Linked DNA regions of Homo sapiens: all the other regions are reported to be linked to region 2. Evidence: microRNA targets listed by miRTarBase, many of them from high-throughput screens and not tested one by one. Region 2 holds a microRNA gene; each other region holds the end of a gene's coding sequence.
What was found. Region 2 holds the annotated microRNA hsa-miR-497-3p (CAAACCACACUGUGGUGUUAGA, at 3,455-3,476, opposite strand). A microRNA usually pairs through its seed, bases 2 to 8, with sites in the 3' UTR of a target mRNA and lowers its output. Matches are read on the target gene's strand: a 7mer-m8 pairs with bases 2 to 8, a 7mer-A1 pairs with bases 2 to 7 and ends in A, and an 8mer does both.

Region 1 (7,561 bases), not on the chromosome of region 2:
CAAGGATTGTTTAATGATTGAATTTATTTCCTCTTGCCTAGTTCAGCATTGAGGATCTCAAAGCACAGCCCAAACAGACAACATGCTGGGATGGTGTTCGTAACTACCAGGTAAGAGGGTAAGGAGGAGGTCGCCTGAGACCCAGGTGGGATGAATGCCTGCCTCCTCCTCATGACGTACTCAGTAGCAGAACCTCTTGGCCAAGGTTGCTTTTTCTCAGAAGCAAACCTGATAATGTATTAAAAAATGCCTTAAGTACTCTGCATGAAATTTTCAATTGGCCTGTGTTCTGGCCAATGTCCTGGTAAAAGTCTGGGTGTCCTGGCAAAGGGGAAGGACTTTCTAATGAATTGAGGAGTTGCAGACAAGAATCACCCATCTATTAAAAGCAGACTTGATTTCTGCTAAAAGCTAGTACTTTCCAGCTGGTGGGAGGATAGTTACTCTTTCTTCTCCCGGGACAGGCTCGGAACTTCCTTAGAGCCATGAAGCTGGGAGAAGAAGCCTTCTTCTACCATAGCAACTGCAAAGAGCCAGGCATCGCAGGACTCATGAAGGTTAGTTGGGCAGGTTTTGGTGTGAATCCCTTTTCCTCCAGGGAGACTAACTTAAGTAGATATAAAGGGATATACCTTAATTAGGCAACAAAAAAGTACACTCCCCCCCACCCCATCCCCCTTTTACAGGAATAGGGAAAAACTGCCCTGGCCCCTTCCTATCTGATAACTCAAAGCAGGCCTTCATTCAGGTCCGACTAGCACAGACTTCACTCCACCTCTAAGTCTTGATCTCACTCGAAAACAGGCCTGATGATAGCTCCTCCAAGCTTATCAGGATAAAATTATTAACTGTGCAGAGGGGAAAAAAACAGTGGTACCAGTAATAACCTTTGCCATTTGTTTTTAGAGCATGTTTTTAAGACTTTTGTAAAAACAGAGTTGATTTCCTAGTCTATATATTAGACTATATATTGTTTCCAAATATCTGAGCCCCCATTGGCTGTACAGCAAGGCAGATGGGTTAAGAATGTGCAGGGAAGAAATGAAAGTTGGATATGGATTAAAAGATTGGCTGTGGAGCTGACTGCAGGCAGATGATTCAAAGCTTTTGTTTTGGTTTCAGATCGTGAAAGAGGCTTACCCAGACCACACACAGTTTGAGAAAAACAATCCCCATTATGACCCATCTAGCAAAGAGGACAACCCTAAGTGGTCCATGGTAAAGACTATGCTTTCTATTTCATGACAGGGGAAGGATGAACCAGGGGAAGAAGACGGTTGGGGTGACTGTAGGTCAAGGTACACGGCCCAGCACTTACTCAGATGAGGTGATACTGAGATAGGAGCTTCCTGTGGGCGGTTAAAAATACAGTGGGCACAGTCAGCCTAGACACGTCTTTCTGTCATGTACACTGTTGTCACATAGGTGGATGTACAGTTTGTTCGGATGATGAAACGTTTCATTCCCCTGGCTGAGCTCAAATCCTATCATCAAGCTCACAAAGCTACTGGTGGCCCCTTAAAAAATATGGTTCTCTTCACTCGCCAGAGATTATCAATCCAGCCCCTGACCCAGGGTAAGAGTGGGCCCTCTCCTTTATTGTCCATATACCAGAATGACCTCATGAATTCCCACTTACTAGCTGATTAAACTTGGGCATGGTACTTCACCTTTCTCAGTCAGCATCCTCACCTGTAACACCCATGAGGGAGGGAATGTGGCCAGAGTTACCTGTTACTATTACCCAGTACTCTATAGTGCTTGGCACCTGGTAAATAGTTTTGAACGAATGACTGCTCGCCTTAGTACCATGTAAGATGTACCTGTGCCTGGCACAACTTTCCTGTTCAAGAGGGGACATTAAAAACTAATCCTTCCTTTTTCCCTTTTTTTTTTGTAGAAGAGTTTGATTTTGTTTTGAGCCTGGAGGAAAAGGAACCAAGTTAACTGAGATACTGCTGCTGGAATGGGCGAGACATTGCTGCAAAGAAGTCAAGCTTTTTTCAGACAAAAGGTGTGAGGGGGCTTGCTTGGTATGCTTACCTGGGCTTGTGTACCTCAGTGGTTTTTGTGTACTTTTTTCAATAAAATATCAAAGTTGAAGAACTTTTCTTCTAAAACCACACTGAGTGCAGTGGGATACTCCCCACTGCAGACCTCTTACCTCCAGGCGGGCTCCTTTGGCCGCTCCCAGATGCAGAGCTGCCTCCACCTTCTTTCTTTACGATCACTAGTAGTTCTGTAGCAAATTGCATGACGTAGGGCTGAGATCCTCAGTCTGGTAACACCCACTGGAATGAACTCTTCTTTCTACACCAGCCTTGCTCACCTGCCCCTTTCATCTTCTGGGTCCCACAGAGGTTTAAACCATCCCATGAGCAGTTCTGGATAAACTGCCAGATAGGGATAAGAACTGAATTCATTTCTCAGCCATGTGCTTGTCTCAAACAGGTGGCTAATAAAGTATTCATCATTTTTCACCCGGGGCTATACAGTGAGAGCACAGGCACTATGTAGGGAAATCAGGGCAGGGATCTGTCTTTCCCTGAGTGTCGGAGTTGGGACCATGTAAGACGGAAGAGACCACAGAACTTGGTGGACCGTGGGCACAATGCCTCCAAAGCCACAGGGGCTTTCTTTAATCAGAAAGACCATTAAAACAAACGTTCTTCTTTTAATACAGCCATTGAAAAGATGACACATTAAGAAACATGTAAACACTGCAGCTGCTTAATTACAAGTTGCACTGCTTGATTTAGTACCTATGCACTCCCAGGTTTGGGGACCTTAAGAGAGGGGGACAGGAGCCTCCCCTCACTTTCACAGTTGGATAGAGAAGGCAAGAATGTGGGTAGAGTAAGAAAGAGAAAACAGAAGACCTGGCTTGTGCACAGCGCCTGAGAGAATCAAAGCAAATTCTGTCTTCTAGTTCTCCCAGAAGAAAGGTTTAAGATGTTAGGAAGGTTGGAAAATGAACGTGTGTTGTCAGTTGGGAGGCAAAGGAATTGACAAATGCTTCTAGTTAGAATATCAGCTAGGAAAAGGAGGGATACAGAGCCTGACCTCATGCTCTGAAAAGGCAAGGAACCCAGAACTTGCCTCCCTTATCCACTTAAGCCCCAACCTTGATCATCAAGGGCAGCGCATGGGTGATCCTGTTCCCATGAGGATTGTGTGTCGCACCTGAACACAGGACACAGCGTGGGGGAAACAACCTTGCCTTCCTCGGTTCTGCTGCCGCCAGTCGCCCTCCTAGGCTACCCAAAATGCCTCTCCCTCCAGTCTCAGCTCTGATCCATGAGCCCTGCCAAAGGCCTGAGACTGCACTGATCTCAGGAAAACAGAAGTCTTCCTTTCCCACACTAACTGAAAGGTGACACAGGAACCAACTCCTTAACTTTCCAAATTACTGAGAACTCAGACTGCCAAATACCGTACCTCTTGGCCAGTGGGGCCTGCTTGGTCTTTCTATAAAGGGAAGGGAGGCCAATGGGAGAGTAATGCCTGTCATTTCCAGGGGAAGCAGAAAAAGGACAGTAAACAACTTTACTACCATAGGCCCCAGCGCAGAGCCGTAGAGGGAGAAGTACCTTCCTCTCTAGCATAACAAGAATATTCACAAGAGTTTTTTTATATGTGTTTTTTAAACACACGATACCAATGGTCCTAAACTTGGGTCAGTCAACTGGTGAAGATGACCTATTTGGCAAGCAGAATGATTCGGAAGTGTGGCAGCAGTCTTCTGCCGAGGCCCTGGTCTCCCCTGTGTAACCTATAGGGAGAGGGGTAAAGGGGCTTGGGCATTAGTAAGAACAGCCTTGCCAAAGGTTCGAAACTAAGCCCCAATTCCCAGAAATGAAATGGAGGGTGAGGAGAGACGAGGGTTCACTCTCAGCAAGGCGGAGGGATCAAGGCCCCTTCCTGGGATTGGTTCTTCAGGGAACCAGGCCCTCTTGTTAAGGGCTTGCTGGGGCACGTGAAGCAATACCTAGAACAGCCCAGACCTTGGGGTTACCAAGTGGAGCGACGTGAAGGCAGGCGGTTGCCATGCACTCATCTTCCGTGGTGGGCCGGGTTCAGCCTCCTGGGTTCAACACTGCCGCCATCCGTGCACGACACTGACCCCAGGGCTTCTCCGTGCCCAAGGCCATCCCACAGGCTTCTGTTCCAGGACATTACTGACAATCCAGAGAGGATGGAGAAGGGAGGTGCCTGGGTCCCAGCAGTGAGTGGCCAGAAGGAGGTGGCCTGTGGGAACTTGAGATCACCACATCCAAGATTCCCAAAGAGGTAGCTTCCCAATCGTGAGTCTTCCCCTGCCACTTAGTGGGGGCTGGCCCAACTCCTGCCACTACCTCCGGGACAGCAAAGGGGAGTACAAGATGTGACTACCCAGGGCCCTGTTGGCAGCTCAGAATCCCAGGGACATGCTCAGATCCTGTATCAGGAAGCTCAGAGAGCCAGGAGCCAAGGATGCGTGCTCTCTGCTCTCCCTCCTCTAAGACGCAAGGCAGCCCCCCGAGGAAGGGGGCTCATGTTCCCCAGAGAGGCTGGCTTCCAGGATGCTACCTCTTCTATCCCACATCGGCCGCAGAATCCCAAGGAGAGACTGCTTCCCACCCCAAGCCCCTTGGGTTCTCCAGAGAAAAGAATTTAAGTCAAAAACATGATTTGTTTTCAGGTTGCAAGTAACGGGTCAACTGAGCCTCACAAGGTCCGCCCCCGCCCCCAGCCGCTGGTGTTGGTAGATGGGGGTGCTGGGTGGGTGCCCAGCATCTTCTCGGCCCTGGGGGCCTACTGCCTGCAGTTGTTGTCAGACAGCTGGCTGGGGGTCCGCACCTCACCCAGGGAGGTGGTGCCCTCAAAGCGCTGTGAGGCGATGGCCGCCTGGTGGGACATGCTCTTCCGTACGATGTCACCCTTCCGCCACAACACCACTTCCTGCAGAATTGAAAGGGGGGCAATGTGACACCTTAGAGGGAGGCATGGGGACAGGTTTCCTAGAGGCTCCCAACTTTGACGTGGGGAATCTCGGGCAAGGACCTCCTCTGCTTCTCTCTCACCAAAGGCAGCAGCTGCCAGCACCTCCCTGTCCCTGGTGTGGGCCAAAAGGGCAGGTGGTTGCAGGAGAAGGCCCGAGGAAGCAGACTCTAAGGCCAGGTGAGAATCCTCATTCTTGTTGTGCAATTGTGGGCGACCTAATGTTCCCACCTCTTGGCAAAAATGGAGTCTGACCTTCCATAGGAAAGAGAGCCTCCTGTTCTGTCCCAAGGGCATCGGGGCCTGGAGGAGCCTGGCCCTCACCTGCTGCTTGAAGTAGCGCCGCTCCTCCTCGTCTATCAGCACCAGGTTGAGGTAATAGCGCACAGAGAACTTCTTGTTGATGTCCCGCATGGTGGGCGTGAGCTCATACCCGGCCAGGAAGAGCCGGATCGGGATGGACTCTCCTGTAGGGGGAGGGCAGGAGTCAGCACAGGGGGCAAGGTGATGCCCTCTCCCTTATACCAGGTCACTCTGACCACTGCAGAGATGCCACTGGAGTGCAGCACACGAGCACTTCAGCCTTCTGGGAAGGTGCAGTCGCTCTGCTGCCCAGCAGGTGGCTGAAACAAAAATGTGACTCTCCAGTTCCACTCCAGGTCATGTTGCAGCTTCTCATGTCTTCTCGAAAACAGAGAGCAACTGAGTGGGAACAGCACAGGTCATTATTAGTATAAGCATCTTTTGATTACATGCAGTGTGTTTAGTTTTGGGGTTTTCAAAAGGCAGCTGTCAAAGTCCAGTTAAGCCACCACTTCACCCAGCAGTTCTGATGCCATCTTTCTCCATCCTCAGTGTATGCCCCCCAAAATACATCCTCCCTCTTGTGTGGACTGGCAAGGTGGTATGGTGGAAAGCAGAAAGTCCTCACTATGGCCTCAGTTCTGCAAGAACCGCTTTTCTGATTTGTGAGTTAAGTCTCTGCTTCCTCTGGACCTTCATTTTCTCATGTGGAAAATTAGAGAATCGGACTGCGTGATACTACAGATCCCTTCCAGCTCTAACATCAGACCGTTTCTAGTATCAGTGGAACAAAATTAGGGCAGTAATTCTACCAAGAAAGGCCAAACCTATAATGTGGTCTAAAGCTAAATATAAGCCATCTTATCATTATCTGCTCTTTTACATGCATTCTCAGTGACCCATTTCATTTGTACAGGAAAAATGACAGCTGGCTCTATTTGCACAGCCAGTGACAAAATGGGACATCAGAGAGTGTCAGGAGAGCTTGGTCCCAACCCTCCAAGGGCCTGGCATGGTAACACCCGCGTGTCCCCAGAGCTGCAGGCAGCTAAATCTGTGGCGCTCCTCCTTCCACATGGAACAGCCTGTGGGAGTAAAAGGAATAAGCCAATAAAACCCTGGAAGCACCATGCACTTCAAAATGAAGAGTCTTCGCCATTCCTGAGGGATGGCTAAAGAGCCAATGAAGAATGTAAATGATTGCTTCTTCCAGATAATCACGGTCCCCAAATGACAAAGGGCTTCCAGCTCTACTAACCCAGATGTAATGTTAGCTCCCTGGGGCTGGGAGAGGATGCTTCCAGCAAATTCCAGGGCTATCTGGGTACCTGGTGGTGTTGGCTGAAGTATCTAGTAGTGCTCTTTCTACCTGACAAGTGAATTCAGAAAATAAATCGGAGCTAGAGCCAAGTCACAGACAGGCTGCTGTGCATGCATCCCTTGCTCCTGAGCAGCAGAGAATGCCAGAATGTCAACAGGAAGAAGCAGAAACGTTTTCAAACCACATCTGCTAAACCTGGACCTTCCAAAGTGACGCTTGAGGTTCAATCTTCAGTACAAGCCCGATATATAATCCAAGTCTAAGTGCAACTTTTCAGGGTGAAGATGGGATAGTAGCCTCAAGTTCTACACACTCAGCCTTCCTTTTCTTCCTTATGGCCACCCACGGTGTAAACTGAGAGATTAAGAAGTTACAGGTTAAGAGGACATCTTATTTTGACAGTGTAATCCCTCAAGCCCCTCCAGAATTCTGTGCAGGACATGGGAGAAAAGCTGTGGTAGCCGAGGCCTGGGCCTGGAGTCTCACCTCGCACTGGTGCCCCGTCCATGATCTCGTACTTGGCTATCGTGTCATTCTCATGGTACACGTTGGGGCCTGTACCCGTCGTTTCTCGCTTGATGATGTCTATCTCCATGTGCTTGATTTTGATTCTCACCAGCAGGAAGTATATCTTCCCTACAATGACATCTTTCAAGTGGTATCTGGGGAACAGAAAGTACAGAAAGTAAGATGTTGGTACTGTGGCCAGACCTTTCTGTTTCAGTAGAGCGCACACGCCACGGCCAAGCGTGCTGGTTAAACGTCCAGTTGCAGGACACACTCACCCATCACTGCCCACATGGCTGTGGCTGAACTGTTTCCCAGTGCGGTCTTTACTTGGATTAAAGTAGCTTCTGTCCCTTCCACATCCCACGCAAAGGACGTCTCTCCTGCATGGTACCCATTCATGTTTGTTCATCTGCTCTATCTCCCCAGCATGCAGCTGCTTTAGTACCT
Region 2 (7,697 bases):
CACCCTTCGCTGTGTCCCGTATCTCAATAAAGAGAATCTGCTCTCTTCAGCCCTGTGTCTGTGCTTGAGTGGGGGCGAGCACGGGGCTGAGACTAGAGGTCGGCCTCTGCCTGGAAAGTCCCGATGTCTGAGCGGAAGTGGAGCGAAGTGTGGCGCGGAAGTGAGGCGAAGGCTTTCCCCATCGACTGGGCGCGCCGAGCGGTCTAAGCGACTGCGTCTGATGGGGCGGGGAGCCGCCGGGTTGAGCCTATCCGCTGCGGGGAGGGCGGGACTTCCTGCGCGGGGGCCCGAGCCGCTCAGTCTCCCTGCTCTCCGTGGTCCCGGCTCGCGTGTAGCGGCGGCGGCGGCGTCTCCGTGAGGAGGCGCGCGGGGCCATGACGTCAGCGTCCACAAAGGTTCGACCTCCCTCGCGGACAGCGCTCCCTGGCGGCCACGGGAGGGCGGGCCCCCCACTTGGCTCGCGGCTCTTCCGCCCCGGGCGGGGGGCGGGCGGGAGCCGAGCCTGGGGTGGGGCTAGGGGCTCCGGGCGGGACGGGGAGGGCGGGCGCCGGCCCCCCGTGACGCTGCCCCGCCCCCAGGTCGGAGAGATCTTCTCGGCGGCCGGCGCCGCCTTCACGAAGCTCGGGGAGCTGACGATGCAGCTGCATCCCGTGGCCGACTCTTCTCCTGCGGGGTACGTGAGCCCGGACTGGGACGTGGACGCTGAGAGCGGGCGCTTGGACTCGGTCACAGACACGGACCCTCTCTAGCACAGGGACAGACATTAGTTTCCCTTTGTGCGTGGCACAGCACAGAGTCGGTGTTAATAAATGATCGTTGGGTGAGGGAATGAATGACAGATAAAAATACAGACAGGCCCATAGCCCAGACTCCTGTTTCACAGTTCTCCCTGCTGCGAACGGGTCGACCACAAACCACCGCCACTCCCAACCACCCCAGTTCATGGAATTCCCCCAGACGGCTGCAGGCTGTGTTGGTGGGTCTGTTTTGAAAAGCCCTTCCTGGCGAGTTGGTTTCAGTGTGCTGTGTACAGCAGCCGTTTAACGTTGATGGTGGAAAGGGGTGTCTAAGGTGGAGGTGGTTGTGATTTCTTGTGATTGGGGTCCTCCCGGTTCCCGCAGGGCCTCAAGAGCTTTCCGCCTCCCCTTACGGAGGACCTCTTTATGCATCCGTGGAAGGGGTCCCAGAAATCGGAAGGAGGCGGCTGGTTGGCTGTGGGATGCATAGCCTGTGGGCGGGCTCCACACCCCCCCTCCCATTTTTGCTATCCCCCCTCTCCCCTTCTGACAGTGCGAAGTGGACGGAGACGGAAATAGAGATGCTGAGGGCTGCTGTGAAGCGATTTGGGGACGATCTTAATCACATCAGCTGTGTCATCAAGGAACGGACAGTGTGAGGGAGGGTGGCTGCCAGAAAAGGGCGGGTGGGCAGCCTTCTTCCTCCTTACCCAAGGTTCCATCGTCCTCAGAACTCCTTTCCAGCTCAGCTGCTTCCCTACTTTGTCACTAGTTTTTTAGAATCCCCTTGAGGACTGAAAGAATAGAATTGTCACAGTTGGTCAGAAGTTCCTAAAATGCTGTGGTAATCCTTCCAAGAATGTGAATTTAGGTTGCCTGAGATGCTGTTATTGTATTTGATGATGGAAGTCCCCTGGTTATTTATATAAATGTTTGAGGACCCCACTGCAGTGTTTCCAGGGATATGGTGACCCTGAACTAGTTGATCAGTAAATCTCAATCCACCTGTAAATCACCAAGCTCTACCTGATGTCTCTCCCAGAAGAGAATTAGGAGATGGGCCTTTCCCACTACTCAGTTCAGGGACTCCACTCTCCACACTCCATCCATCCTGAGTGAGTGTAAAACTTCGAGAAAGTGAGAACCCTACCAATGGGTTGGGGCCCCGACCTGGATTCTTATGAAGGGACTCCCAGAACCCCTTCCCCTCCCGTCCCCTCTTCTGTTAGTCTCTCTGATGACTCCTTTCCTAACCTCTTCTCTCTTTTCTTCAGGGCCCAGATAAAGGCCACTGTGAAACGCAAGGTATATGAAGATTCTGGCATCCCCCTTCCAGCTGAGTCACCCAAGAAAGGGCCCAAGAAGGTGGCATCTGGTGTCTTGTCACCTCCTCCAGCTGCCCCTCCTCCCAGCAGCTCCAGTGTCCCTGAGGCCGGGGGTCCCCCCATAAAGAAACAGAAGGCTGGTGAGGGCTGTGGAGTTGCTGCCTAGGGGTTAAAGGTCCCATCTGAGGTTTAGTGAGAGAATTGGGCCTGGGTCAAAGAAGGGTCAGTCTCTCTTCCTGTCCCTGTGGAGGTTCCCAGAGAGGGGCAGAGGGGAGGGGAGAGGAGGCACAAAGCTTTGGGAAGCTTGGGGCTGGGGGAGAGGCTGTCAGGGGAACCTAGAACCTAGCTTATGCCCCCTTCCCAGATGTGACACTCAGTGCTCTGAACGACTCCGATGCCAACAGTGACGTGGTGGATATTGAAGGGCTAGGAGAAACTCCTCCAGCTAAGAAACTCAACTTCGACCAGGGTAGGAGTCCTCCTCCTCCCACACAGCTGACGGGGTTGGGGAGAAAGGGCTCACCTGGATGGCAGGGCACGGTCTCCGCAGGGGCCCCTCCCTTGTATAGGGGTTTCAGAAGAGAAGGTGCTCTCATACACAGCGCAGGGCATTGGATCAGTACGTAGCAGGGTGTTTCAGGGAGGTGGGAGTGGCCTTGGAAGCACACTGGGGGCTCGCTCCATCTCGGCCCATTTTACTTCCTGTTCCAGACAGCCTGACCCTGGATTCTGGCCTTCTCATGACCTCTGCTGATCCTCCTCTCCTCTCCTGCTGAGCCTTCCACCTCTGACCTCTCACTGTTCATGCCGGACCTGTGGATCTCCTGGGACTCCGAGCAAGGCCTGCACGAGAGAGGGCTGAAAGGCTGCTGGGGCTGCCACCTCGCTATTCCCGCATAAGCATCTGCCCCCAACCCCTTTGACCTTCATCTGATGGACATTTTTATACAGAAAACAATAAAGATTTCCCTCTCAGCTTCGTGCTGTCTGCTTAACATTATTAGCAGGAGAGGCCTGTTCCCTCTTCTCTCCTCGGCCCATGGGGGCTCAGCCCCTCCTCGGTAGTTTTCACCACCCTGCCTGGAGCAGCACAGCCAATATTGGCAGACTCGCTTCCCTGTGCCAATATTTCTGTGCTGCTAGAGCCAGGGAAGCTGGGTGTGGGCAACAAAGACTCCACTTTGTTCTCTTGAGGCAGAACTTACTCCCAGGGTCTCTGGCCATCAGTATTCTTGAAACTGCCCTGGAGATTTTAGAGGGGTGCTTACATACCCCACCCTCTCCTTGCCCACCTGGCAAGAAGTTTGTCACAAGGCCCCAGATGTTTTTTGTGTCACTTCTCCAGGATGGCCTCCCAGGGCCAAGCCTCGGCGGTGCCTCCCCCACCCTCGCTCTAACACCACAGTGTGGTTTGGACGTGGCCACAGTGCCGTACAAACCACAGTGTGCTGCTGGGGCGGGAGCAGGACCGGGGTGGGTTGAAAGGAAGAGAGCACATAGCAGTGCTGGGAAGACCCCAGCACCACCTCCAGGAGCGGGGGGATAGAGAAGCCTTAAAAGGCAAACATGGCCCCCAAAAACGTTTGGGAGGAACCAGGGACGGGCTGAGCAGGCAACTGGAAGGCGACGGACCATGGGGATGAGCTCACAGTGTAGTAAGATTGGACCATCTTCCCTCTGTAGGAACTCAGCTCAGGGGATCCCTAGGGTGGGGTCAGAGGCAGAAGAAATAGGGAATGACTGGAGGGGCCAACACACTGCCTCCTGTCTCAGCAAGGGCAGGGACCCAAGGCTTCCTGTGTCCGTCCTTCCTCTCCCTGGGTCAGAACCCAAGAGAAAAGCAAGGAGAGACAGAGGGCCAAGGCCAGCAGGGTTGGGAGTTGGCAGTCCAGAGGTGGTGGGGCCGGAACATGGTTGGGAGAGGGGGGCCGGAAGTCGCCCTGGGCCCTGGGCCTGCCACAAGATGGAGGCCAAAGGCAGGAAATGGAGACCAGGGGGAAGGGGAGCAGCAGAGCCCAGGAAGAGGGCCATCTGGACCTGGGGGGCCAGGTATTCAACCCCCAGTGCTGTTCCCACTCCCCAGGGCCCCTGAGGACCCGAGCCGGCCCCCACAGCAACCTCCATCAGCCCATCCACCAGGCCAGGGCAGGCGGGCCCACCCCAGAGAGCCACGTTTAAGCTGAGACAAACATGCCTCTCCCCACCCCCAACTCCAGGCCTTCCCTCAGCCCTTTTCTCCTGTCCAGGACTTGATTTTTTAAAAACACCCCTCAGAAAGCAAAATCCAAGGGCCAAAACTCCTTTTGCAAATCAAAATATGACCCCCTAAAATCCAGAAGTTATCTTCCTATATCCCATCGCATCTTTTACCACCCCCTCTTCCGACACACCCCCCAAAACTCTTAGCAATCTGAAAGATCCAAGGTGGTGTATGTAAGCAGTCTTTTTAGGCCCCCGAAGATGCCAGACCCCTCCCGGACACCCCTATCTGCCCTCCATCAAATCTTGCCAAGGCCTCCTGCTCCTCCACCACCCTCCATAGCCCCCAAACTAACAGTTGCCCCCAGCTCCTACCTCGGCAGAGCCTTTGTGGGGGGTGAAAGAGAAATTAAACACTATCCTAACGGCTGGGGATGTTGGGGGGCTCTCTGGTCTCAGCCTTTGGTTTCCGTCTGGGGGGCTGCAGTTTAGGGGTATAAGAGAAAGCCTCTCCAATCATCCCCCCAATTCCAAGACTGACAAAGCCAACCCCACCCCAGCACGCACCTCCAAACCTCCCCCCCAACCGCCACGTCTCTCCTGAAAACAGAGGACACTTCCCTCCCCACTTACCTCAGCTACTCTCCCCTGAGATCCTGGTCCCCTATTTTGAAAAGAGCAAAATTTAGGGTGCATCCCTCACATTTGGGGTGCAGGAGAAAGGAGCCGCCCCAGTCGCATCGCTGGCCTCCTTCCTCTCGGCTGGCTCAGGGACTGGGGAGTGCCCTGGGGAGGGGGCACCCCCACAAGAGATCTCAGGAGGGGTTCCTCCACTCCCAGTCAGAATTGGGGACACCCCCCCAAAACCCGTCCCAGCCCATCCGTCTCCAACTCGGCGGGAGAGGCAGCTGCAATGCCCCAGTCAGATTCACCCAACACTACATTCCTCACCCCATCTAGAGGGGTCCCGGGGTCCCCAAAAAATCCCAAAAAAATCTAGGATGTTGGGAGGACGGTCCTGGACTAGCTCCCCAAATTTGGGGTCCTCAGATACCCCCGTTTTTTCAGGAAAATTCCGTCTTTTGCCTGCCTCCCGCCAGCCCTGCTCTGTCCCGATGCCAATTTTGGAAGTCACTCCCTCCTTCCTCCTCCCCGTCTCTCCAGGCCCCCCCCACCGCTCGGGGGCTAGGGTCCAGGACACCTGGCTTCCAGACCGGGGGGAATCACTCCTCAAAGGGCTAGGGGCCAGGAGGTCAAGCTCATTGCCCCTGTCTTAAGGAAGCAGGAAAGCCCGTTCCTCCCTTCCCCTCCCCCCTGGCTGGTCACCGTGGTGGTTTAGGAAAGCCTGGAGGATTGGAATCTGCCATTGCTGTTGCACAGGCAGTTTTTTTTCTTGGGTTGGGGGGGTGGGCGGTGGGAGGGAGAGAGGGGAGGAGGGCCGAAGAGAGAAGGGACCCAGGCGCGAAGAGCTGGCCTGGCTTACCCTGTAGCCCCGGCTGCCGTGGGGAACCCCTCCCCGCCATCTCACCCACACTCCCAGTCCTCTGTCTGCTTTCTGTTTGGGGCTCATCCTAGAAAATCAGGGTGCAAGAATCACCTCCTTGTACCCCACCAGCACCCCTCCTTGCCACAGTTCCAACAGCACTGCCCTGGTCAGGGGTGCCCACTTGGCCAAGGGACACCCCATTTTTCTCCAACTTCCCCCAAACTAAGGGGTGCTCCCTTAAGAAATTGGGATTCAGAGTCTGAAACCGCCTTTTCTCCCTCTCTTCTCCCTCAAGCCACATAATAATAAAAGGAGATACCACACCCTTTCCAAGTTTCTCCCTTCAAATCCTGGGCTTATTTGGGGGTTCACTAAAGAAACTTCTAGAATCTGGGGTGAGAGGGCACTATAAGCAAAAGACATCCCAAACCAGGGTCCAAATTAAGTGAACTCCCAAATCAGTCTCACCTTATGATTATCCCTTAGCTTCACCAAAAGCAGCCAGAGTGACAAAACACCCCCAAAATAAGAACACCCCAGAACTTTAGTCTCCTGTCCTCGCGGCCCTCACCTTGTTTCTCCCCTGGGGAAAAAGCTTCTTGGGTATCCATGGATACACAGGAATACCCCACGTCTTTCCACTTTGTGGAACGTGAGTGTCCACAAGACTCAAATATAAAAGTTTGCTCCCCCCTCCCAGGACCCCCAATCACAGAAAGCTTCGAACTTGCTCCCAGCTTCCTATAATGTTCCACCTCAAACTAATTTTTAAAACTCCAAATTGAACTTATTCCCCAAATCTAATCTGAGCCTTGAAACTTAGATGGCACCCCAAAATAGACTGCACCCCCAAATCAGCATGAGTACTTTGGTTCTGCTGATAGTCCAAGATGACACAGGTGAGCACAATCTCCAAATTGTGGGTGTCAGAACCCCCAGAACTAATGTAACTTCCAAGTCAGCCCCATACCTGAAACTTACCATATAGGCCTCAAAGGCTGAATGCAGCCACCGGTGCTCACAATCAAATCAACACCCCATAATAAACAGACACCCCACAACTGATCAAATAATACTCCATCCTGATGCCAAAGGGAGAGCCCCTAGTCTAATTCTCATCTCCAAGCTGGGCAGAGACCTAAATAACCCTCACATGTCAAAGCCACCTCATCGTCCTGAATTTCCCAGTTCCCGGTTTCTCAGCTGTTCTTTCATGCATTCAAATAAAGACACACTCCGGTCTGAAGGGGAGGGCCCCGGGCCTGATATCCAGCCCCGTGGACCATGGTCGGCCATTCCTGGCCAACTGTACACTCTCCCCAGCCCAAATCCGGGGAGCTTCTGCCTTGCAGCTGGATTCAGCTCTAGCACCCCTTCTCCAAATGAGCTTTGCCTTGCCTGCCCGCAATGTCTCCCGAAACAAAATATGAGGGTGTGATCCATGCCCATCTCTCAGATCAGGGACTTCAAATTAGGGTGGTTAAGCCCCCTCCTGCCCTCTCTCCCTCCTCCTTGTTTTCCCTTCTCGTTTACCCCACCCAATTTTAATGTTCAATTAAAAGTCACCTCCAAAGACATCTGGGTAGCAGTGTCTAGCTTAATTCGAAAAGAAAACCCGGAGTTCCCAGGCTCAGGTCCCGCTTCTTGTCCCACCCATTCCCCTGGCTCCTAAAGCCCGCGATTTCTCACCTCGGGTAGGAACCCCAGCCTGAGGGGAAAGTCCCCTCGGTCTCCTAACTCTAGCTCCCTCCGCCCAGCCCTAGTCCCCTCCTAGGAGACAGAGGTGCAAAATAAACCCGCGCAAAGGGGAGGAGGCTAAAGGTTTCAGCCGCCCAGACCAAATGGATCCTGCGCCCGGGTCTGAGCGCACCCCAGGCCGGGTGGAGACGAGGGGCGAGGCGAGGCCAGTGCTCGGCCGCCCCCTCGTGGAAGGAGCCGCACATTGCCGAG
Region 3 (7,697 bases), not on the chromosome of region 2:
CTGGCTGAGGGTCTCAGAGCAAGTCATGCCTTTTCTGGGTCTGGGGGCCTTCATGTTATTCCCTCCTGGCTATGTTCTTCCCCTTTGCTCCTTGAGCCGATCCCAGACTGAGTGCTGAAACTGCGGCCTTGAAACTTGGCTCGCTCCTCCCCCTGCCCACCCAGCCAGCTTTCAGATGGAGACAGGAAGCTCCTCCCAATTGCCTATGCTGCAACTAGTCAGGAGAAGGGCGGGAGGTTGGCAGTAAGTGTTTGGCTACTCCCAGTGTTGGAGACTGTGTCCACCTGACCATGTGATCATCTGGCCGTTCATGCCAGGACCACCAGGAACAAGCCTCAGTCCTCTTCTCAATGTCCTTTCCCTATGACAGCCCTGCAGAGGCTAGGTATCCACCACTACATAGCCCACAGTCTGCTCTGCCCCAGCCACAGCATCCTTGGCTTGCTCAGCCATTCTTTGTCTGGGTAGTTTGAAGTCCAATCCCCACTCTCATTACTTACCATCCTCTGAATGCAGCCAGTCTGTCTGGGTCTCCCTGAGACTGGCATGCCCAGACTCCTGTGGGTATAGTCTGGCCAAGGCAGAGTTAGCATAGGACTGTCACCTCCCTCCTTCTACATACTCTGCTTCTATTAATGCAGCCTAATGTTACATTTGTTCTTTTGGTGACCGCATCTCACTGCTGACCCATCCTGAGCAGATGGACATCCAAAATGCCTAAAACTTTTTTCTGTGTGCTCTTGCTATTAAGTTCTGTCTCTCCTGCCCCATTCTATGCTGTTGCAGTTGTGTTTTTAACCCAGGTGCAGAATCTTACTTTATTTATACCTGTGGAATTTTGCTCGAGAGGGTGGGGCATGCATGCGAGTGTATGCTGGTGTGTTTATTCATGCTTTCTGCTGCACCAAAGCCAAGTCCTAGGTCCCCACGCAGCGATCCTAAGGCTAATTATTAATTGGTAGCTGTAATCTAATTTGTCTTTTTCATCTTCTGTTTAGCAAGAGGAACAGAGATCAGGTCTTATGGCAATGACCCCTGAACGGCAGAATGCATATATCTCCCAACAGATGAGTCCATTTGAAGGTAAGCAGTTAAGGCCAGTGTTCCCAAAGGGGTGGGCAAGGGGTGCATATGTGGAAGTGGGGTGAGAATTCATTTCAGAGTAAGCAGTTACTGTGCTTCTGAAAGCATTGAGAAAGAGGAGATCTGAAAATCAGTTAAATAATTCATCCAACTCTAAGAGCAGGATCCCAATTGAAGGCCTGGTCTAAATGACTCCAAAATCACCACTTAATTCAAGAGACTGATTTCCCTGAGTCAGGCCCCTTAAAGCAGCTATTTCAATGGGACAGGGAAACAACCCTAGGATCTGGATTAGAATCACTTGGGGGCTGCCACACCCCCAGGGCTCTGATCCTGCCCTTCTCCCACACGCACATTCACATACTGCTGCAGTGACCTTCCATTTCTAATGGGTTCCTGGGCCATCTGTCAGGTATAGGGAATGGAAAAGGGGTTGGGGAGGCTCTGCTTCAGAAAGTTTGTGTCAGGGGCTCCCAGAGCCTCCACAGATAGATAGCAGGGGTCCCCACCCTACCATGGCAGCTATAAATGTGATCAACATTTATTGGCCTAGGATACAGCAGTTAGCAAAATGCCTGATGTAGTTCCCACTCCGTGGAGGTTGCAGGCTAGCCAAGAAGTCATGAGTTCAGCAACCCTTACGCACCAGTGGGATGAGATTGGACCAGGCCGAGGGTAGTCTTGGGAACACTCAGCATTTGTCTGAGGGCCAGAAGAGGCTGCTTGCCCTCAGACAGGAGGTCAGCATCTTTATTGTAGCCCATGACACCTCTACACCATTGCTCTTCTGGTCTTATGGAAGACATCTTTGGGCCTGATAACAGCGGAGTCTGTGTCCCACTTGTCCAGGCTGGAGTGCCACATCAGGCACACTCCAGTTGCAGGGACAGCACAGACAAGTTTCAGGAAGGCTGGTGGCCTCCAGGAGGTTAACCTTATAAGGCCAGATTGTAACCTAGTTGAAAAACATACACATGCCATGATAATAAAAGAACCTAGGCACCATTACAAGAGAAAAAATCATTTTTGTAGATACGAGCATGGATTCTTGGGTGGGTCAGACACACTGGGCTTGTGCTCTGACTGCACTGTCTCCCCTACCTGACCTTGGGTAAACCATAAGACTGCTGCATGACTCAGTGTCCACCCCAAAAAAGTACCGGTAGATATTGGCCACAGTAGATATCAGCTAGAGTGGACTCTCATGACAATGAGGGGAGATGTATTCCCCATCTTAGGCACCTGGGACTCTACCTTCCATCTTCTGCTCCGTGTCTCTCCATCCCCAGGCTCTTCAGAACTCAGGGAGTCCAGAATGTCAGCTCCCAGATTTCAGCCTTCAGAAAGGAAACCCATTACCGTTCAGTTGAACAAATGTTGTCTGAGCCCCAGATCTGGGCTCAGAGGCCATCTAGGCTATGAGACAAGAGGGGAACAAAGCACCGTCTGCACTCACTCACCACACTCACTTGCTGTCCCAGGTCACATCCATCGGGTAGAGAATCTAAGAGGCTGAGCTAGCTCCCGCCACCAGCCCAGCCCACCCCACCTGGCCCCTTCCTTCCTTCTACAAAATATGCACCACCTGTCAAAGGGTGGGCAGTGCCAGGCCTGCATACAGAGCACTGAGTGTAAAAGCAGACATGGACCCTGACCTCCAGGAGCTTCCAATTTTCTTGAAGAGACAAATCAGCTGGCATTTCAGTCCAGTGTGATCTGCTCTTGGTGAGCACAGACCTAGGGAGTTGGGGCAGCTTCCCAGAAGAACTGCAGTCCAGGCTGAGGGCAGAGAAATGAGGGGAATGGCGAGGAACTGGGGAGCAGGGGGGAGCTCAGTAGAGAGCCAAGGGCGGGAGGTGAGAAGTCCGTGTTGGGCCAGGAGCTACCCTCCGGTGGCCACAGCCCAAGTCGAGGATGCCTTTGGAACTCATCCCCACTTCTCTCTTTCTGTATGTAGCCGTCCAAGAACAAGTCACCTCCAAGTGTAGCCGGATCAAGGCAAGCCCCCCATCTAGCAAGCACTTGATGCCACCCAGAACTGGGCTTCTTCAGAACAATCTGAGTCCAGGAATGATCCCACTCACCAGGCACCAGAGCTGCGAGGGCATGGGAGTGATCTCACCAACTCTGGGGAAGCGGCAAGGAATTTTCACCTCCAGCCCCCAGTGTCCCATCCTCTCACACTCAGGCCAGACTCCCCTGGGCAGACTTGACTCTGTCTGCCAGCATATGCAGAGTCCCAAGGCCACCCCACCAGAAGTGCCCCTGCCTGGGTTCTGTCCCAGCTCCCTGGGCACCCAGTCCTTGAGTCCCCACCAGCTCAGACGGCCTAGTGTGCCAAGAATGCCCACTGCGTTCAACAATGCTGCATGGGTCACAGCGGCAGCAGCTGTGACCACAGCAGTTTCGGGGAAAACACCCCTCAGCCAAGTGGATAATAGCGTTCAGCAGCACTCACCTTCTGGCCAGGCCTGCCTTCAGAGGCCATCTGATTGGGAGGCACAAGTGCCCGCTGCGATGGGAACACAAGTGCCCCTGGCCAACAACCCCAGCTTCAGCCTGCTGGGCAGCCAGAGCCTCAGGCAGAGCCCGGTACAGGGCCCGGTGCCTGTAGCAAACACCACCAAGTTCCTCCAGCAGGGTATGGCCAGCTTTAGTCCCCTGAGCCCCATACAGGGCATCGAGCCACCAAGCTATGTGGCTGCTGCTGCCACCGCTGCTGCTGCTTCTGCCGTTGCTGCCAGCCAGTTCCCAGGTCCGTTCGACAGAACGGATATTCCCCCTGAGCTGCCACCTGCCGACTTTTTGCGCCAGCCCCAACCCCCACTAAATGATCTGATTTCGTCACCTGACTGCAATGAGGTAGATTTCATTGAAGCTCTCTTGAAAGGCTCCTGTGTGAGCCCAGATGAAGACTGGGTGTGCAACTTGAGGCTGATCGACGACATTTTGGAACAGCATGCTGCTGCTCAAAATGCCACAGCCCAGAATTCTGGGCAAGTCACCCAGGATGCTGGGGCACTTTAAATCTGAGCAGGATGCCCATAGAAACCCCCATGGTGACATCACTCTAGGAAGTGGTGTCGATCCATACCCGCAGTTGTCTCCCGTTACAATTTGAGTGGTGTTGTCAGCCCATGCTTATCCCTCTCTCTACCTGTGACAAAATGGAAAGCTGGTGATTTTTCAAGCTACGTGTACATATTTGAAAATTTTGTAAATGGTTTTCCTAAACATTAATGACAGAAGTATTTATACTTCATTTTGTGACTTTGTAAATAAAGCGACGGCTTTTGTTTCAGTAGAGTTGTGTTTACTATGCATTGTTTTGTGTTTATTATACAATGTTACAAATATGCAGACCGTGTTGTTTGCTCCAGTGATACCTTGTTAAGCTAGGTGGCTGAGTCGCTTATGGTTTTAATGCAATGAGCAATGTGGATATGACCAAGAGTTGTTGTGCAAGTTGACAAATGCCAAATAGAAAACCACTTGGCCATTTATTTCTATGTTCACTAAAAATCCTATTGCCTTGTGTGATTCTTAATCTCTTTTGCGAACCTTTCAGTCTCCGCTAGCTCTTTCCTAATGAGCTTTACAGCAGAAGCCGTTTTATCGTTAAGTGCCCCACAGAGACACTTTACCAGGAGGCTGGGAGAGTTCTCCAGATTTGGGAGAGGCGCAGAGACAGTGTGTGAGCCGAGCCCTGTCTCAGCAATCCACCTGGAGGAGCTAGAGTATCCTCCTCCCTTTACCATTCAGACCGAGAGAAAAAGCCCAGCTTGTGTGCACCCTCGTGGGGTTAAGGCGAGCTGTTCCTGGTTTAAAGCCTTTCAGTATTTGTTTTGATGTAAGGCTCTGTGGTTTGGGGGGGAACATCTGTAAACATTATTAGTTGATTTGGGGTTTGTCTTTGATGGTTTCTATCTGCAATTATCGTCATGTATATTTAAGTGTCTGTTATAGAAAACCCACACCCACTGTCCTGTAAACTTTTCTCAGTGTCCAGACTTTCTGTAATCACATTTTAATTGCCACCTCGTATTTCACCTCTACATTTGAAATCTGGCGTCTGTTTCAAGCCAGTGTGTTTTTTCTTCGTTCTGTAATAAACAGCCAGGAGAAAAGTGCCTCTATGTTTTTATTTTTCAAGGGAGTATTCAGTACCTACAAACCCAAGTCAGGAAGCCTGCTAGTGGCTTTGGTTCTTTCAGAGGCTGCTCGATGCCTTGTGTGTCAGAAAGAAAGATTCAGCAGTTTTGCATCATGGCAAAGAAGCCTGTTATTTTGGGGCTCAGCCCCTCATTTTATAGAGGATGAAACAGAGGGGGATGGGAGGTCACAAAGACAACTGCCTCGGGAGCAGGTGTGGGGGAGACTTGCCCTGAGGGTCTAGACTCTCTGCACCACCGTCCTGTCTCCCTTGCTGAAGACCACACATGCCCTTCTTTGACCAGACCCTGCCACCTGATAGGCCAGGACCTGGTAGGCGGGTACCCAGGTTTCATGGATGGAACCACATCTCCCCAAAAGTGGGGAGGTAGCTACTGGGATGCACGCCTCCCGCCATGTGCTATAGGAGAGCAGCTGAAGCAACAGTTGGGATCAGATGTAGTCACAATTGAATGCATCATCACATTTATCCCTCTAAGTGGCTGGGAGAGTTGATATCCTCATCCCTAAGGTACAAAATGTTCCAATTTGATCAGTGGCTTTCAGGAGCTGAGAAAGGCATGTGCTCTGAGGCAGAGCTGTTATGTCCCGCAGAGCCTAAAAATGCTCTAAGAACATGCTCCCTGCCAAAATTCTCAATGGCTGTGACAAGGGACAACGATCGACCAATGGGGGTGGAAGCAGACCTCCGCAGTCCAGGGGCCAGAGCTAGGACAGAGGGGTCGGAGAAAGAGTCATTTTCCCAACACTCCAGCTCTTGGCCAGTCCTCACACAGTCCCCTCCTGCTTCCTGCTGAGAGAGATATCCTCATAGGTCTGGGTAAAGTCCTTCAGTCAGCTTTCATTCCCTGTCACCAACTTTGTCTCTGTTCTCCCTGCCCGTCTCAGGCAGCACTCCTCAGGAAACCTCTCCAAGAGCCAGCCTCACTGCAGCGCCCACTATTGTCCCTCTGCCTCAAGTGTCCCATCCATGCCAGGCCCCAGGCAGGCTGCAGCTTTCCCTCAGGGCCACACCAAAGCACTTGGGCTCAGCTGTGCTGTCCCCCTCCATCACTGAGCTCAGGGGCAGCAGGGGTGGGGTGCCAGGAGGCCCATTCACCCTTCTCTGGCTCTGTGTTGGACCCACCTGCCCAGCCACTGCTGCTTAGAACCTACCCGCTGGGAAAATGAAGCCCTCCCGGAGGGGCCACCTCAACCTGAGAGCCTCACGGATCACAGTTGTCCCCACTCAGCTCTGCCAGCCCTCAGAGACCCACAGATAAAAGCTGAGCTTGGCTCGCAGAGCTGGTTCCATCTTCCATTCCCAGAGGGTTCAACTTCCTACCCCAACCACACAGGGAACCTCAAGGCTGAGCCAGTGTGGGCTGCAGTGCAGACCAGCTTCCTGGACACGTCCTGCCACCTGACCCCAGGCTGGCCTCACTGCCCCTGGCACTCCTGACCCTATCCTCATTCCTCCTGGCAGTGCGTGTTCTGCCATTCTGCTTTCCCTTAGCTGTCCTCTCACTGTACTGTCAGCTTCTCCTTTTCCAGGTGCCCCCCAGGGGCTTTCCACATGACCCTGTCACCCCACAGCCCATCCAGCACCAATTCCAGCTCTCTGCCACCCTTCAAAGGAGTGACAGTGCCCTGCTTCACCTCCCACTCACCCCTCAACCCAGAGCAATCTGGCTCCAGTCTTGCCTCCTTCCCCCTAAGTACTCTAGTCACAGTTCCAAATTCCTCCTGGTCATAAAGCCAAATGAAGCTTCCTGGTCCTCAGCGGACTTGCCACTTCAGCAGTACTGGACTCTCTCCTCCCAGAAACCTGTTTCCCCTTGGCTCCTGGAGCCCACACTCTGCTGGAATCCTTCTGCCTCTCTGGCCTGTAGCCTGGCCCTCTCTCCCAACCTGAGGTCCATTCTCTCCTGCTCCTCCACAAGATGTTGCTCCTTCCATTACTTCCTCCCTCTCAACCAAAGCTCCTTCATTAGCTCTTTATCTTCTGGTTTCTTCCCCTGGGCAGACGAATGGATTCAAGAGCCTGTGGCCCAGCAGCCCAGCACTCCAGGATCTCAGCACTTCAGCATCCCAGTACCCTAGCATCTCAATACCCCAGCACCCCAGCACCATAGTATTCCAGCACCCCATTGTCCAAGCATCTCAGCACTCCAGCATCCCAGCACCCCAACACTCCAGCAGCCCAGAATCTCAGCACCCTAGCACTGCAGCATCTCAGGACCCCAGCACTTCAGCATCCCAGCACACTAGTACTCCAGCATCTCGGCACCCCAGCACCTAGGCATCCCAACACCCAGCACCCCAGCACTTAAGCATCCCACCACTACAGTATCTCAACACTCCAGCACCCCAGCACCATAGTGTTCCAGCACCCCAGCATCCCAACACCCCAGCACTTAAGCATCCCAACACCTCGGCATCCCAACACCCCAGCACTGCAG
Region 4 (7,697 bases), not on the chromosome of region 2:
GAGCTCATTGCTGAACCCCTGACGGAGCCGGCACGGCACCACCTGCTTTGTTCGGGGTGTCCCAGAAGCAGCTCCTGGGGACTTTTGAAGTCGATACTATTCCCGGTTTAGATATCAGGAAACCGACACTCAGAAAAATTGTGTAATTTCCCCAAAATTTCACAGGTAATGAATTTCAGAATTCGAATTTCTCCCCAACCCCAAAGCCCAAGCATTTCCACGACATCCACAATTAGGAGCAAATTTCTCCTTCACAAGTAGGGATAACAGCAATATTTCTGGATTTTAAATCAAAATCTGTATCTGTATGCATTTCCAAAGCATAGACTGTAACCAAAAACAACAAATAACAGAAAAACCAGCCAACACATAAAAAATGCCTCTCTCATTTTTCCACACTTTTTAATCCAAGCAGGAATAATAGTGTTGATTTGTCAACTGGTAGAGGAGGGCAGGCATACTAATGCCTAAAATAAACGTTTTAGCCAACTTAGAGGACACTCAGAATTGCACATATTAGCTCTGAGCTTGGCCGAGACGCCCAGCATCCTGCAGCTCTCAGCCTCTGTCCTGTCCGCTCAAGGGCACTGCCGGGGTCTCCCTTCTCCTGGAGACTTGGAAGGTCAGGGAAGCGTCGATGCTGTCCTGCTGAGCAAAAGGGCCCTCTCCTCTTGCACATGCTCGAGGTGACCCCCCGGTGAGTGCCTCCCTGGAAGACCCGCTGTGGGATTTGGAGCTCCCCCATGGCCCCATCCTCTTCCCTCCTGGCCTCCCTGCCCCGTGGTGGGGGTATCAGAGCTGCATTTGATCCCTGTCTTGTGTTGCTGCAAAGCTTTGCCTGGCAGACCTCAGAAAGCTAACAGAGGAAACGCCCCAGCTCCATCATCCTCCTGCTCAGCCGACAACATGACTCTCACCAGCCTGCTCCCTGCCCACTGTGATGCTGTTTTAGCTCCCACTGTCCCCCTCTGTCCCCAACCCTGCCTGGAGCCCCTGCACAGTGTTCATACTTTTAGTAGCAGTCAAGTTTATCCGCTCATTCATCATTCACACCTCAGATGAAGCGGGTTTCCTTGATGACTAGGTTTCCTGTGGAATTGCCAGAGGACCTGGTCACAGTTGCTCTCTGTAATAGTGGGAGAAAGAAAGGCAGAAGGCCAAGGCCAGGAGCTGATGCCTGGCATGTAAAACTCACCTAGCAGAAGCTCCTTTTCTGCTGGTGTCTGATTGGCTCTTTCTCCTTCTTGTCCGCAGCTGAGCACACGGACACCCAGCCCTGGAGACACGCCCTCCATGTACTGTGAGGCCAAGCTGGGGGCGCACACCTACCAGTCTGTGAAACAGCAGCTGTTCAAGGCCTTTCAGAAGGCTGGCCTGGGCACCTGGGTGAGGAAACCACCGGAGCAGCAGCAGTTTCTACTGACTCTCTAGGCTGCGGGCTCCTGGCTGCTGGAGCTGAGCGGGACGCTGGAGGGATGGGACCGTGTCTGGGGGGCGACGTGGCGGGTCGGCCGGTTCCCTGCATTCGTTTTACTTTGGTGTCCCAGAAACACGCGAGTGTGCAATGTTTGGACGAGCAACAACACAAATTCAGAACGTGCCTCTTTCCAGATCGCTGGCCCCAGAACCCTGTCCCCCACACCCAGGGGCACATGCACTGTTGAGTTAGCGCCGACTCTTCCTGTGGAGTCTGAGGGAGGGGCTCCATTCAGGCAAAGGGGTTTTAGCTGCAGCCTTGGAAGGAGGCACCGACACGACACCAGGCAGGAGTGAGCCTCAGGCCCCGTCCCTGCACCCCACCCCTGCGTGCGCCTCTTGGTGATGCTGGGGTCTCACTAGCTTGAGGGGGCACATGAAGATAAGCCACAAATGAAGAGAAAAGCCATGCCCACCCCAGCCCCAGAGAAACCAATAAGAATCCTCTATTATTTTCACTATTCATTTAGGTTTTTATACTCCACCTCCTTTCAAAAAAGATTTAAGATGTACGACATTACCGAACACCTAAAATAGAACCAGAGAAACGAAAGCCATTCCCACAAAGTGAAGGAACAGTTTCCAAAACCCCTGCGAGGCAGAGTTAAGACCTGTGACGTGGGGAGCCTGGAAACACCCGGCCCACGCGTGCTGCAGATGTGGGGAGCCTGGAAACACCCGGCCCACGCGTGCTGCAGATGTGGGGAGCCTGGAAACACCCGGCCCACGCGTGCTGCAGATGTGGGGAGTCTGGAAACACCCGGCCCACGCGTGCTGCAGATGTGGGGAGCCCGGAAACACCTGGCCCATGCCTGTTCAGTCCGTCATGGCGTTTGGTTTATGGTGGCCGATACTAAGAGCCACTGAGGTCTGGGTTGTGTAAGGGTTAGCTACCACCCTATAACCTCCCTACCAGGTAATAAGGAGACCAAGTCTTTGATCAAATTCTGATTTTTTAACTAAATTTTCATTAGAAAGCAAGCACAAAATAAAATCAAAACAACCTTTACCTTCAGCTTGAGAGGCTACCAGCTCTCTATTCTTTCAGATTCTCCAATCAACACCTTGCAGGACAAGACCCCAAAAAAGTTCAGCTGTCAAAAAATGTAAGAGGCAGGATTCTGTGACCCTCAGAGCAGGCTTCCAACACCAGAGACCTTCAGCTCACAGTGGAGATGGGACATGGGGGCTTTAGCCCACAGCATCATCCCTGAGAGCCAAGGCGCTGTATTCATACGGGGTCAGGCTCTTTTCCAAGTATCTTTACGTAATCCATGTACCTCGAGCTGCTGTCATCTCACCTCCGAGAACTCATTTCTAACATTCATCATGCTAGATAGCCAGTCTCTCATTTCTCCAACTTAAAAAATCCATCTCTGAAATTCATGACAGTGATGGCAGACGGCAAAGCATGGTGGTGTCCACCTCTGGGGTGTGGGCTTCCCGGAAAGAATCCCAGCTGACCACCCCAGAAAGTGCAAGAATAACATTGTGCTGTACATAGTCAAGTGCTATAAATTACAGTTATCATAATGAGAAGGCAGAAATGAAACTGAGTTGTAGCTATTTGTTACAAGATAATAAGAAGTAGAGATATTAGTATGGAAAAAGAAACTTTTCCTGGGATTTAAAATCAGGCCAAATTTATCACTCGAGTTCTTTTAGAAAAGAAAACAGGTACTGGAGTAGACAACTTCTTCCAGATAAAGTTTCAAAAGATACGAGAACATTTTTTCAAATAAAGGACTCACATTAATCTTTTATAAAAATCACAAAAATAAATGAAATCTTAATTCAGTGCAAAAGCTAAGCTCAAACGACCAGTTTCTATTAAGTTCTGGTAACTTGACATCACTAGGATGAAGCTTAGAGAACTTAGAGTCGAGAGGTGATGGGTGGCTCAGACATTCGCAGCAGTCAGAAGTGAGCGCTCCCCTGAATGCGTGGGAGCACGGCCAGCTCCTGGCTGAAGTCTCCCACCCAGGCCTCAAATCACCTTCATCTGAGATGTTGGCTAGAGAAGCATATAATGCTTTGTCCCAGTGGGCTCCAAATCACGCTGTTTCTGCAGCGAGGGGGCCTGTGTTGTAAGCAGATTTCACTGTCACAGGGAAGACGCAGGGTCTGATTCACGGGACTCGGAAAGCGCTCGGCCACCCAGTGGCCAGCATCATGAAGCCACAGCTGGGGGGTTGGGATTCGTTTTGTCTCAGGCATTGACCTTCCAGAAACAACTCAGACTTTACTGAAATATCAACATCCACATCTGGAGAAAGCCACACATTAATTCCATGCTACCCATTAGTACAAGTGTATGGATTCGTGTATTAAGTCCACAGGAGACTCCATGGAAGGAGAGATTAAAGCTCTTCAGAGAAGGCCGATAGCGACAGAAGAGTTTCCAATGCAGCCAGAGTGAGGTTGAGGTGCCGGAGCCTTTCCGTGGAGGGATCTGTCAGAGGGGATGTGGGCTGCAGAGGGGACCCCACGTAAGGAAAGGAGGGTCCCAGGCCCTGGGTAGTGAAAGGAGAAGGTAGTCGAGGCAGTCAAGGGTGACCCTACACGCAGGAGGCACGCCACACCAGATCACGCCACACGCAGGCTGCTCCCAACTGGCAGGGCCTGACCCAGCCAGGAAGGGCCAGGTCCTAGGATTCCACAGTGCCAGGAGTGCCCGAAGGGGCCAGGTCCCAGGATTCCCACAGCCCCAGGTGTGCCTGGAAGACCCGGGTCCCAGGATTCCCACAGCCCCAGCTATGCTTGGGGGGGCCGAGTCCCAGGATTCCCACAGCCCCAGGTGTGCCTGGAAGACCCGGGTCCCAGGATTCCCACAGCCCCAAGAGTTCCCGGAAGAGCTGGGTCCCAGGATTCCCACAGCCCCAGCTATGCTTGGGGGGGCCGGGTCCCAGGATTCCCACAGCCCCAGGTGTGCCTGGAAGACCCAGGTCCCAGGATTCCCACAGCCCTGGATGTGCCTGGAGGGGCTGTGCCACCTCTGCAGAGATGGAAGGGCTCGTGTTGAAGCCTGAGGATTTCGCCCTCAGGTCCAGGTCAGAACATCCCAGCACCACTTTCAGGCCATGTCTGCCCTGCAGTTTTGACCACTGAATTGGTCTTAAGAGTGGCCACCCATTCCCCTCCAAGTGAGGGGGCAAGACACAAGTAGGGGACGGGTCACTTTCTGTCACCCTGAAAATACGCTGGGCACGACACAAGTAGGGGATGGGTCACTTTCTGTCACCCTGAAAATACGCTGGGCACGACACAAGGGGGGCTGATGAAGTCAGGCCCGCCCCTCCAAGTCCACCTCGAAATCACCGTCTGGCTTCCTCGCACTTCCCACCACCTGACACCGCCAAGCCCCTTGCTTCAGATTTTCTGTGGTCTGTATTCATACCCTTGCTTCAGATTTTCTGTAGTCTATATTCATGCCTGCTTAGGCCCCTACAAAAGTCCTCATAAAACCAGCACCACCTTTATCTGCCTCCAAAACACACACTGCTTTCCCATCAGGAAGATCAGCAATGTGGTTTCCGGCCTGGTTCTTAGTCAAAAAGTTAGTGTCTGGTGGTTTCTGGCCTTTTTGCAGGACGGGGCGCAGGGAACGGCTGCGCGGCCAGGCAGCCTCCGCTGTCCACCTCCAGCCCCGGTTTTGCAGCCGTGTGTGATATCAAGGGATAGAGTTAGGGTTTCTGTGGGTTTTGTTTTTGCTGAGGAAAGGATGTGCAGGTCGATAGCTATTGTTTCCTTTCCATTCCTGTGATTCTCTTTACATCTGTATATATCTATCACACCATGCTGACTTTGTGATGAGTCCTGTTCCTCAGAAACATCAAGCTGGGTTCCTTTTCAAAGAAACACACAGATCATATTTCTCCATCTCATTTTGTTTTCACAGGGAGCTTTTCTTATCAACAAAGTCGCATGCTTTTTTTTTTGGATATAATGTTTATCACGTCTGGAGAGCCATAAACAGTAAATACAGAGGATATCAATGCCCAGAATAGTTATTTTGATGAAATCCTATTTTTAGATAATAAATTTCAAGATGTGTCTATAGTGTATTGTTTAAAACAACTGAAGACATTTGAGACGTACATAAAGTAGACATTTTTAATTTAGGGAAACTTATATGCCCTTTTTTAAGAAGCCATTCTAATAAAATAATCTGACTAATTGGCCCAAAATACAATAAGTATCACTTTCTAACAGAGACCAAAGGGAAGCTGAGAGGCTTTCCTTTTATGTACTACCGTTGGATCGCTGCAGCCGCCTCTCATAACACCCAACAGAACCCGGTGAGGCTCTGTGGGCTTCCCGCGGCCCTCAGGGAGGCTGCAGAGTCCCCTAGTCCATGTCAGGGAGCCGCCATCCCACATACCTCCAAAGCCTGTCCTCGCCTGCAGTTTTTGCAGAGCTCGCGGTTGGAGGTGGAAATTTAGAAGCCCTGTGTTGCAGGAGAGGCAGTAGCACCCCCAGGCAGCTCTTAGCAGGGACAGACCACCCCCCGCCTCGCTGGTATTTTAGGGTCTTTTGGTATTTTGCCACTGTGTGGGGCTAGGCGGGTGGCTGGAGGACACGGTGTAGGCCTTGCCGCTGTCTGGGTTCCTCGCCACTGCAGGAGCAGGGCTGTTTCTGGAAACACTGGGCTGCTGGTGACCCGTCAAACTTCTCCCACAAATTCTGAATCCGAGAAAGTGAAGGAAGGATGGTGGGGAAGTGAGGAGGCAGGAGCAGAGGCCACAGGGACCAACCAGAGATGCGGTGGAGACAGAGGAGCTTCCTTCTCAGGCTGTTTCTGGGAAGCCTGAGAGGCGGCCAGCACCACCCTCCGCTCACTCTCCCCTCAGCCTCTTCGCTTCCCTTCTCAACCCTTTCTCTCCTCCTCGCCTCTTCCCTTTCTTGCTGTCTTGTTAGTCCCTGTCCCAAAACTCCTGGCTCCTTTGTTCTGCTGCCGTGGCCCCCACCCAGGAGGAGGTCTCAGGCACCATCCCCCCACGAGGGATCCACACAACAGGTTCATGCTGGGGCTGGGGGAGCCCCGCTGGGTTCCTGATGCCTTGTGCACAGGGAGTTGCTGCAGTCATTTTTGGACTCTCCTGAATGTGTCCACATGTTCTGACCTCCCACCAGAAGGAACGCTGGTGGCCACATCTCTAGAGATCTATTTACTTTTTTGAGACCGGCTTATGAGATTGGCTAATTTTTGTATTTTTGGTAGAGATGGGGTCTCACCATGTTGCCCAGGCTAGTCTCGAACTCCTGGCCTCAAGTGATCTGCCCACCTCGGCCTCCCAGAGTGCTGGGATTACAGGCATGAGCCACCGCGCTGGCCTCTAGAGATTCACACCAAACAATATCACTCCTGCGGGAACCGCAGACAGATCAAACCCTGGTGAGAGGAACACTTTATTTCCCAACTCATCATCCTAAGCCAAGGTTGGAGGGATGAGCATTCCCTAAACACCAAGGCGAGATCACCTGGTCCCAGTGCCTCTTTTCACACAGGCCCTAGATTTCTATCTCTCTGCAGTTTATGCATCGGTAAAAAAAAAAAAATCTCTCCCAGTGTGCCCCGTTAGTTTTCAGCATTTTGTAAGCAAAATGAACTTAACACATAGTAATTCTAATTGAAGGTATGTACATAAAAAGCATGATAGAATGGCAATATTGTATCAATGGATGTACATTTGTAATATTTGTAAAAAAAAATCCAAAACCTTAAAATATGAATTTACATGTTAATTTGCCTCTAAGTTCTATAAATTGCACTTCAGTGATATCTAATAAGTGAATGTTTCTGTTAAGTAAATAAAAATATTCAGTAAAATTGTTCTTTCCTGGGTTGTTGGGCCTTTTTCATCAAGCAAAGTTCTGGGGGTCTCAAGACTGTACAATGTGTCCACCCACCCCAAAGAAGGGACACAATCAGCTCTAAAACCTTTTCCTGGCCAGGCGCGGTGGCTCACGCCTGGAATCCCAGCACTTTGGGAGGCAGAGGCCGGCGGATCACGAGGTCAGGAGATCGAGACCAGCCTGGCCAACACGGTGAAACCCCATCTATACTAAAATACAAAAAATTAGCCAGGCATGGTGGCGCATGCCTGTAATCCCAGCTACTCGGGAAGCTGAGGCAGGGGAATCGCTTGAAACTGGGAGGCGGAGGTTTCAGTGAGCTGAGATCAGGCCACTGCACTCCAGCCTGGTGACAGAGTGAGACT

Region 1: miRTarBase lists THYN1 as a target of hsa-miR-497-3p. Seed matches in the 3' UTR shown: 7mer-m8 at 2,062-2,068.
Region 3: the mRNA of MAMLD1 is a reported target of hsa-miR-497-3p. Seed matches in the 3' UTR shown: 7mer-A1 at 4,903-4,909 and 7mer-m8 at 4,944-4,950.
Region 4: miRTarBase lists ADARB2 as a target of hsa-miR-497-3p. Seed matches in the 3' UTR shown: 7mer-A1 at 2,311-2,317, 7mer-m8 at 5,003-5,009 and 7mer-m8 at 5,044-5,050.

The regions. Positions count from the first base shown.
Region 1 is chr11:134,242,824-134,250,384 of GRCh38, reverse strand. THYN1 (thymocyte nuclear protein 1) reads left to right here. Exons shown (of 7, transcript NM_014174.3): 3 at 42-110; 4 at 465-557; 5 at 1,123-1,218; 6 at 1,426-1,576; 7 at 1,901-2,103. The coding sequence ends at 1,947. It overlaps VPS26B (VPS26 retromer complex component B), which reads right to left. Exons shown (of 6, transcript NM_052875.5): 4 at 7,091-7,266; 5 at 5,305-5,447; 6 at 2,597-4,941. The coding sequence ends at 4,795. Among named protein-coding and RNA genes, the nearest start is that of THYN1, 6.7 kb to the left of the region's middle.
Region 2 is chr17:7,014,484-7,022,180 of GRCh38, forward strand. MIR497 (microRNA 497) reads right to left here and starts at 3,539; the gene lies at 3,428-3,539. It overlaps BACC1 (BPTF associated chromatin complex component 1), which reads left to right and starts at 299. Exons shown (of 6, transcript NM_174893.4): 1 at 299-395; 2 at 579-673; 3 at 1,291-1,392; 4 at 2,012-2,202; 5 at 2,427-2,531; 6 at 2,778-3,037. The coding sequence starts at 375. The coding sequence ends at 2,782. It overlaps RNASEK-C17orf49 (RNASEK-C17orf49 readthrough), which reads left to right. Exons shown (of 8, transcript NR_037717.1): 3 at 1-395; 4 at 579-673; 5 at 1,291-1,392; 6 at 2,012-2,202; 7 at 2,427-2,531; 8 at 2,778-3,041. It overlaps MIR497HG (mir-497-195 cluster host gene), which reads right to left and starts at 5,171. Exons shown (of 3, transcript NR_038310.1): 1 at 4,895-5,171; 2 at 2,586-2,905; 3 at 1,335-1,531. It also overlaps MIR195 and RNASEK. RefSeq lists enhancers at 1-261, 12-141, 612-1,112, 1,525-2,724, 4,076-4,245 and silencers at 232-681, 7,521-7,660.
Region 3 is chrX:150,508,964-150,516,660 of GRCh38, forward strand. MAMLD1 (mastermind like domain containing 1) reads left to right here. Exons shown (of 8, transcript NM_005491.5): 7 at 999-1,083; 8 at 3,041-5,210. The coding sequence ends at 1,039. Among named protein-coding and RNA genes, the nearest start is that of MTM1, 56 kb to the right of the region's middle.
Region 4 is chr10:1,176,927-1,184,623 of GRCh38, reverse strand. It overlaps ADARB2 (adenosine deaminase RNA specific B2 (inactive)), which reads left to right. Exons shown (of 10, transcript NM_018702.4): 10 at 1,255-7,311. The coding sequence ends at 1,431. Among named protein-coding and RNA genes, the nearest start is that of LINC00200, 21 kb to the right of the region's middle. RefSeq lists an enhancer at 1-168.